Homo sapiens: one gene and its partner. The protein of the gene in region 2 purifies or fractionates together with the protein of the main gene of each other region. This does not show direct contact. Each region holds a gene or a part of one and is shown on either strand. Other genes may lie near its edges.

Region 1 (3,827 bases), on a different chromosome or scaffold from region 2:
TAGGCGTGGTGGCACATGCCTGTAGTTCCAGCTACTTGGGAGGCTGAGGCTGCAATGAGCCAAGATCATGCCACTGTACTCCAGCCTGGACAACAGAGCAAGACTCCATCTCAAAAAAAAGGAAAGAAGAATTCGCATCTGTCCAATATGTTAGTTTTGGGAGCATTTTCAAATGTGTAATATTTTATCGAAATAACAACAAAAAAAGTCTGCAGGTAGTTTGATGACCTATCATTATAATTCCCATTTACAGCTGAGGAAACTGGGATACATGAAGTGATTTAAGCTTATTCTACCAACAAGAAGAACACAATCCAAGGTCTCTTTGCCCCAAGTGTCCCTCTGCTTCAGGAACCCTACCACTCTGCATGCACGCACACACACACACACACCCTTGTGCTCACACACATACACCCTATGTTCATACATATGCACCACTGTGCTCACACACACCCCTATGTTCATACATACACACACCACTGTGCTCACGCACACACACCCCCACTGTGTTCATACATACACACCACTATGTTCACACACACCCACACACCCCACTGTGTTCATACATATACACCCAGACTCCAGCCTGGGTGACAGAGCGAGACTCTGACTCAAAAAAAAAAAAAAAAAAAAAAATTAATGAAATGAAAGCAAAGGCCAGAGAAGCAAAGGGCATCATCTTTGGTCACTTTACCTCCCCTGGTTTTATCATGTGAAATTCAGCCAGGTGGGGAAAGCTTACAGTGATGAAGAAAGTTAAGAAAAAAAAAAAACACCAAGCACTAAAAAGGGAAAAGGAATGTGTGGAATTAGATAGATGGTAGTTGCACAAAACAGAGAATACATTAAAAATCACTGCACTGCACGCTTTAAAATGGGGCATTTGATGTGATGTGACTTACATTTCAATTTTCTAAAAGAGAAAAAGAATGTGGTAGAAAAAGCAATAGGTCTGGGTGCACAGAATGAAGGACAGCCAAGAAAGAAATGTCAATTACTCTCAGTTCTCAAGTGTTAAATAAAGTTCCTATGAATACAGACGAGGGTAGCACATTAAGGAAAAATGGGATGGAGGGAAGAAAACAGAGGTTTTTTCCTTGCAAAGGTTTATAAGGGATGTTTTACCGAGAGATGGGCAACAGGAAACCCTGGCAGTGCTGGCCAGATCAGCAGGGTCAGGTCCCATCCCCATATACAGGCGCAGAAGCCCCAAACAATACCAGCAAAGAGGGTCCTGAGGTGAAGGGACCAGCCTACAGGAACAGTCCACGTCATATTCAGGGAAATAAATAGTATCTTGGTGGCCCAGCATAGTGGCTTACGTCTGTAATCCCAGCACTTTGGGAGGCCAAGGAGAGCAGATCATTTGAGCCCAGAAGTTAAAGACTAGCCAGGGCAATGCCATGAAACCCTGTCTCTACAAAAAACAAGCCGGTCATGGTGGTGCGCACATGTAGTCCCAGCTACTTCAGGGGCTGAGGTGGGACGATCACTTGAACACGAGGCTGCACTGAGCCACGACTGTGACACTGCACTCCAACCTAGGCAACAGAGCAAGATCCTGTCTCAAAAATTAAATAAATACATAAATATTTTTTTAAAAAGAAAACATTAACAACCAGACAAAACAAATGCATCTATTTGGCCTTTGGGTGACTTATTTATAGATATGCTTTCAGAATTAAGGAAAGCGGATGTTGCTTAGGCAACAACAAAAAATAAAAGATAAAAATAAACCCTGCGAAAATTTCTTTTTTTTTTTTGAAACAGAGTCTCACTCTGTTGCCCAGGCTGGAATGCAGTGTCGCAATCTCGACTCACTGCAACCTCTGCCTCCCGGGATCAAGCGATTCTTCTGCCTCAGCCTCCCAAGTAGCTGGGACTACAGGTGCACACCACCACGCCTGGCGAATTTTTGTAATTTTAGTAGAGACGGGGTTTCACCATACTGGCCAGGGTAGTCTCAAACTCCTGACTTCATGATCCACCCGCCTCGGCCTCCGAAAGTGCTGGGATTATAGGTGTGAGCCACCGCGCCCAGCCGAAAATTTCTTTAATAAAACTTGCCAGAGCATGGTTAAGAAAAATTAAAAGTATTGATTTATTAAAAGGCACTACCAAAAAATAAAGTTAAGCCATAGATTAGGAAAAAATATTTGCGACACATATATATCTGGCAAACGGCTTGTATAAAAAATACGTCAGCCTGGGCAATAGAGCAAGAGCAAGACTCCATCTGAAAAAAAAAAAACATGTAAGGAACTGCTGGGCGTGGTGGCTCACGCCTGTTAATACCAGCACTTTGGGAGGCCAAGACGGGCGGATCACGAGGTCAGGAGATCGAGACCATCCTGGCTAACATGGTGAAACCCATATCTAATAAAAATACAACAAAAAAAAAAATTAGCTGGGCGTGGTGGCAGGCGCCTGTAGTCCCAGCTACTCCAGAGGCTGAGGCAGGGGAATGGCGTGAACCCGGGAGGCAGAGCTTGCAGTGAGCCGAGATCGCGCCACTGCACTCAAGCCTGGGCAACAGAGGAGACTCCATCTCAAAAATAAATAAATAAATAAATATGTAAGGAACTTAAAAATACAAACAATCCAATTTTTTAAATGGGCAAAAGTCTTGAACAGACACTTTACAAATCCAGGCATACAAAGACCGACAAGCATGTAAGCGCTCACCATTATGAGTCATCAGTGAAATGCACATTAAAACTAACAAGATGCCACTATACCCCGCTAGAATGGCTCAGATGAAAAAGACAGGCAAGGCCAGGCACGGTGGCTCACGCCTGTAATCCCAACACTTTGGGAGGCCGATGGGGGGTGATCACCTGAGGTCAGGAGTTCAAGACCAGCCTGACCAACATGGAGAAACCCATCTCTACTAAAAATACAAAATTAGCCCGGCATGGTGGCCCATGACTGTAATCCCAGATACTCAGGAAATTAAAGCAGGAGAATTGTTTGAACTCGGGAGGCAGAGGTTGCAGTGAGCTGAGATCGTGCCACTGCACTCCAGCCTGGGCAACAAGAGTGAAACTCCATCTCAAAAAAAATAAAAAATAAAGTATTGAAAGTAGTCAAAATCATAGAAACAAAGTAGAAAAGATGGTTACCGGGGGAGGGCGAGGGAGGAGGAGATATCAGTATTTGGGGGCTACAGTCTCAGCGCTGCCAGATGAAAGAGTTCCAGAAATGTGGAACAACGATGTGCATATCCTTAACACTACTGAATTGTGAACTTTTAAATGGTTAAAATGGTACATCTTTGAAAAAAATTGAAGTGGCGCGAGGTTTCCCCAAGAAAAAGTAATGATAGGATTAAACAGCATTATCATGATTCACTTGAAGCTGCAGCTTTAAGTACTGCAAGGTGATTCAAAGCTTATACCGCGAAGCAAAAAAACTGAGTTAGAATCTTGACTTCACAGCTGTGTAACTTTGGTTTCTGAAACTTCCCCTCTCTCACCCTCAAATTCCTCAACAGTAGAATCTCAGTAACAGTACCTATTTTACTTTTTTTTTTTCTTTTTGAGATGGGAGTCTCACTCTGTCGCCCAGGCTGGAGTGCCGTGGCTCGATCTGGCTCACTGCAACCTCCGCCTCCCGGGTTCAAGTGATTCTCCTACCTCAGCTTCCCAAATACCCGGGACTACAGAAGCATACTACCACACGCGGCTAATTTTATATTTTTAGTAGAGACAAGGTTTCACCCATGTTGGCCAGGCTGGTCTCAAACTCCTGACCTCAGGTGATCCGCCCTCCTCAGCCTCCCAAAGTGCTGGGATTACAGACATTAGCCACCAAGCACAGCCTTTTAT
Region 2 (3,827 bases):
CAAGTGAGTGGCCATGTGTCAGGGCCATTTCCACAATAACACCATGTAGTGCATGGATCTGTTACATATTGTTTTACTATAGTATATCCAGCTTAATCAGGTGCAGGGCGACAGTTGAAGGAGTACTCCTGGAAAATGCCTAAGATATGTAGATCTCTAGGATCTTGCACCTTCTGGTGGTTGCATGAAATTCTTCAGAGGAATCATCAGTGATAGTAAATTTACATGTTACATTCATAACAACTCTTATGGGAAATTTAGGATATTCAAATAGGACAACACCAGGAATTGACGTATCACAGAACTTGGTTTACAACAGTCCGAGCATGGATCCCATGCATCACCTTCAGCAGGAGGGGCAGATGGGCTGGCCAAGTGCAAGCTTGATAGAGCGGGATAAGTGACTGCAGGTGCAAGAGACATAGCATCTCTAAGGTTAGCCAACCCTTGGGGAGCCTTTGTAGAAACAAAAGAAGATTTAATGCACCGAGCTTTGTTTCTACGAAGATGAACCTGTTATTTATGGCTCAACTGGTGATACTGCCTGACTTAATTTTAAGTCGAGTTTCTCTAGAGACTTCTGTTTCCTGTTGATTCTCTGTGATCCTCTCTGAGAGCTTCCTGAGAACCCGCTCGATTGAAGTTTGGCTCTCTCATGCCTCAACCTCTGCAGCCTCGAGGTAGGTCTCCACTTGTTGCATGCTTCTCGTTCGGACTCTGTCTAGATCTAAGCCCTCCTCCTCCACTGCTTACTCAACCACTGACTCGAGAGTTTCTCTGGTTACTAGCTCGCTCATCACTCTCTGATGCTTCTTTTGCTTTGGTGTAATTTTCTTCATCTGTTTTGGAGCAACTTTATCCAATCAGCTGTATGCCTAAACACTAACAATGAACAATCTGAAATGGAAATTAAAACAATTCCATTTACAGTAACATCAAAAAGAATAAAATACTTAGGAATGAACTTAACCACGGAAGTGAAAGACTTGTACACTGAGAAATACAAAACATTGCTGGAAGAAATTAGACATAAATAAATGAAAAAACATCTGGTGATCATGAATTGGAAAACTTGCTATCATTAGAGGTGTCAGTATTACCCAAAGTCAGCTAGAGATTCAATACAATCCCTATCAAAATCCCAACAATGTTTTTTGCATAAATAGTAAAATCCATCCTAAAATTCATATGGAATCTTAAGGGATCCTGAACAACCAAAACAATCTTGAAAAAGAAAACCAAAGTTGGAGGACTTACATTCTTGATTTTCCAAACTTACTACAAAGCTACAGTAATCAAAACAGTGTTTTATCAGCATAAAGATAAACATAAAGACCAATGGAAGAGACTAGAGAGCCCAGAAATAAACCCTCACATATCTGGTCAGATGAGTTTTGACAAGGGTGTGAATACCATTCAGTGGGGAAAGGTCAGTCTTTTCAACAAATGGTGTTGGAAAAACTGGATATCCACAAGCAAATGAAATAAGTTAGACCCTTATCTTACATTACATACAAAAATTAACTCAAAATGGATCAAAGACCTAAAGATAAGAGCTAAAACTATATGTATAATATATATAATATATAAAAAATATATTTTATATATTATATATATCATATATAATATAAATATATACTTTATATATAATAAATTATATTATAATAAAATATATTATATATATTTAATAAAATATATATATATAGTATATATAATGTATAATATATACTATAGTGTATATAATGTATAATATATACTATAGTATATATAATATATACTATATATAATATATACTATAGTATATATTATATATACTATAGTATATATAATATATAAAATATATACTGTAGTATATATAATATATAAAATATATATTATATAATATATATAAATTTTATATATGTATAATATATATTATATATAAATTTTATATAATATGTATAATATATATTATATATAAAAAACAAGAAAACAGAGGGAAAGCTTCATGTCACTTAATTTGGCAATGATTCTTGGGTAAGACAAAATGCACAGGTAACAAAAGAAAAATTAGATAAATTAGATTTCAAATTTAAAAACTTTCGTGCATCAAAGGACACTTTTAACAGAGTGAAAGGCAATCCATGGAATAGGAGAAAATATTTGCAAATCATACATCTGAGATGGATTAATGTCCAAAATGTATTAAAAAACTCTTACAACTCAACGACAAACAACCCAATCCAAGAATGGGCAAAGGACTTGAATAGGCATTTCTCCAAAGATATACAAATGGCCGATAGGTATGAAATACATGAAAAAATGCTCGATATCTTTTCATTAGAGAAATATGAATCAAAATCATGAGATATCACTTCACACTGCTTAGGATGGTTATATTACTATTATTATTTTGAGATGGAGTTTTGCTCTGTCACTCAAGCTGGAGTGCAGGGGCATGAGCTCAGCTCACTGCAACCTCAGCCTCCCCGGTTCAAGCCATTCTCCTGCCTCAGCCTCCTGCCTCAGGGATTATAGGTGTGCGCCACCATGCCTGGCTAATTTTTGTATTTTCAGTAGAGATGGAGTTTTACCATGTTGGCCAGGCTGGTCTTGAACTCCTGACCTTAGGTGATCCGCCCGCCTCGGCCTCCCAAAGTGCTGGGATTACAGGCGTGAGCCACCATGCCCAGCCTAGGATGGTTGTTATTTAAAAAAAAAAAAAGAAAACAAGTGTTGCCAAGGATGTGGAAAAATTGGAGCCCTTATGCATTGCTGATGAGAATGTAAAATGCTATAGCCACTGTGGAAAACAGTGGTTCCTCAAATAAATAAATAAATAAATAAACATAAACATAAAATTACCATACAATCCAGCAACACCACTTCTGGGTATATACCCACAAGAACTAAAAGCAGGGACTCAAACATATCTGTACACTCATGTTCACATCAGCATTTTTCATAATAGCCAAAAGATAGATGCAACCAAAGTATCCATCAAAAGATGAATAAACAGAATATAGTGTATACATACAATGGAATATTATTCAGCCTTTAAAAGGAGTGAAATTCTGGCCAGGTGCAGTGGCTCACACCTGTAATCCCAGCACTTTGGGAGGCTGAGGCTAGTGGATCACTTGAGGTCAGAAGTTCGAGACCAGCCTGGCCAACGTGGTGAAACCCCCTCTCTACTAACAATACAAAAATTAGCCGGGCGTGGTGGCGTGCACCTGTAATTCCAGCTACTCAGGAGGCTGAGGCATGTGAATCACCTGAACTGGGAGGCAAAAGTTGCAGTGAGCCAAGATCGTGCCACTGCACTCTAGCCTGGTTGATGGAGGGAGACTCTGTTTCAAAAAATAAATAAATAAAAATAAAAGGAGGGAAGTTCTGATACAGGCTATAAAGTGGATGAACTTTAGACATTATGCTAACCAACTGCAGCACTATTTACAATAGCAAAGCCACGGAATCAACCTAAATACCCATCAATGACAGACCAGATAAAGAAAATGTGGTATATATACACCATGGAATACTATGCAGCCATAAAAAAGAATGAGATCATGTCTTTTGCAGAAACATAGATGGAGCTGGAGGCTATTATCCTTAGCAAACTAACAGAAACAGAAAACCAAATACTGCATGTTCTCACTTATAAGTGAGAGCTAAATGATGGGAATGTATAAACACAAAGAAACAAACAGCAGACACCAGGGTCTTCTTGAGGGTAGAAGGAGGGAGAGGAGCAGAAAAGATAACTATTGGGTACCAGGTTTAATACCTGGGTGATGAAATAATCTGTACAACAAACCCCTGTGAAATGAGTTTATCTATATAACAAA

The links.
Region 1: the proteins of RUSC2 (region 2) and KLC1 purify together in Homo sapiens (affinity purification with mass spectrometry, with the first as the bait; one study listed by BioGRID). This does not show direct contact.

The regions. Positions count from the first base shown.
Region 1 is NC_000014.9:103,635,466-103,639,292, reverse strand, and holds part of KLC1 (kinesin light chain 1), read right to left. Parts: intron 1-3,827. UniProt on the Homo sapiens protein: Kinesin is a microtubule-associated force-producing protein that may play a role in organelle transport. The light chain may function in coupling of cargo to the heavy chain or in the modulation of its ATPase activity.
Region 2 is NC_000009.12:35,493,031-35,496,857, reverse strand, and holds part of RUSC2 (AP-4 complex accessory subunit RUSC2), read right to left. Parts: intron 1-3,827. UniProt on the Homo sapiens protein: Associates with the adapter-like complex 4 (AP-4) and may therefore play a role in vesicular trafficking of proteins at the trans-Golgi network.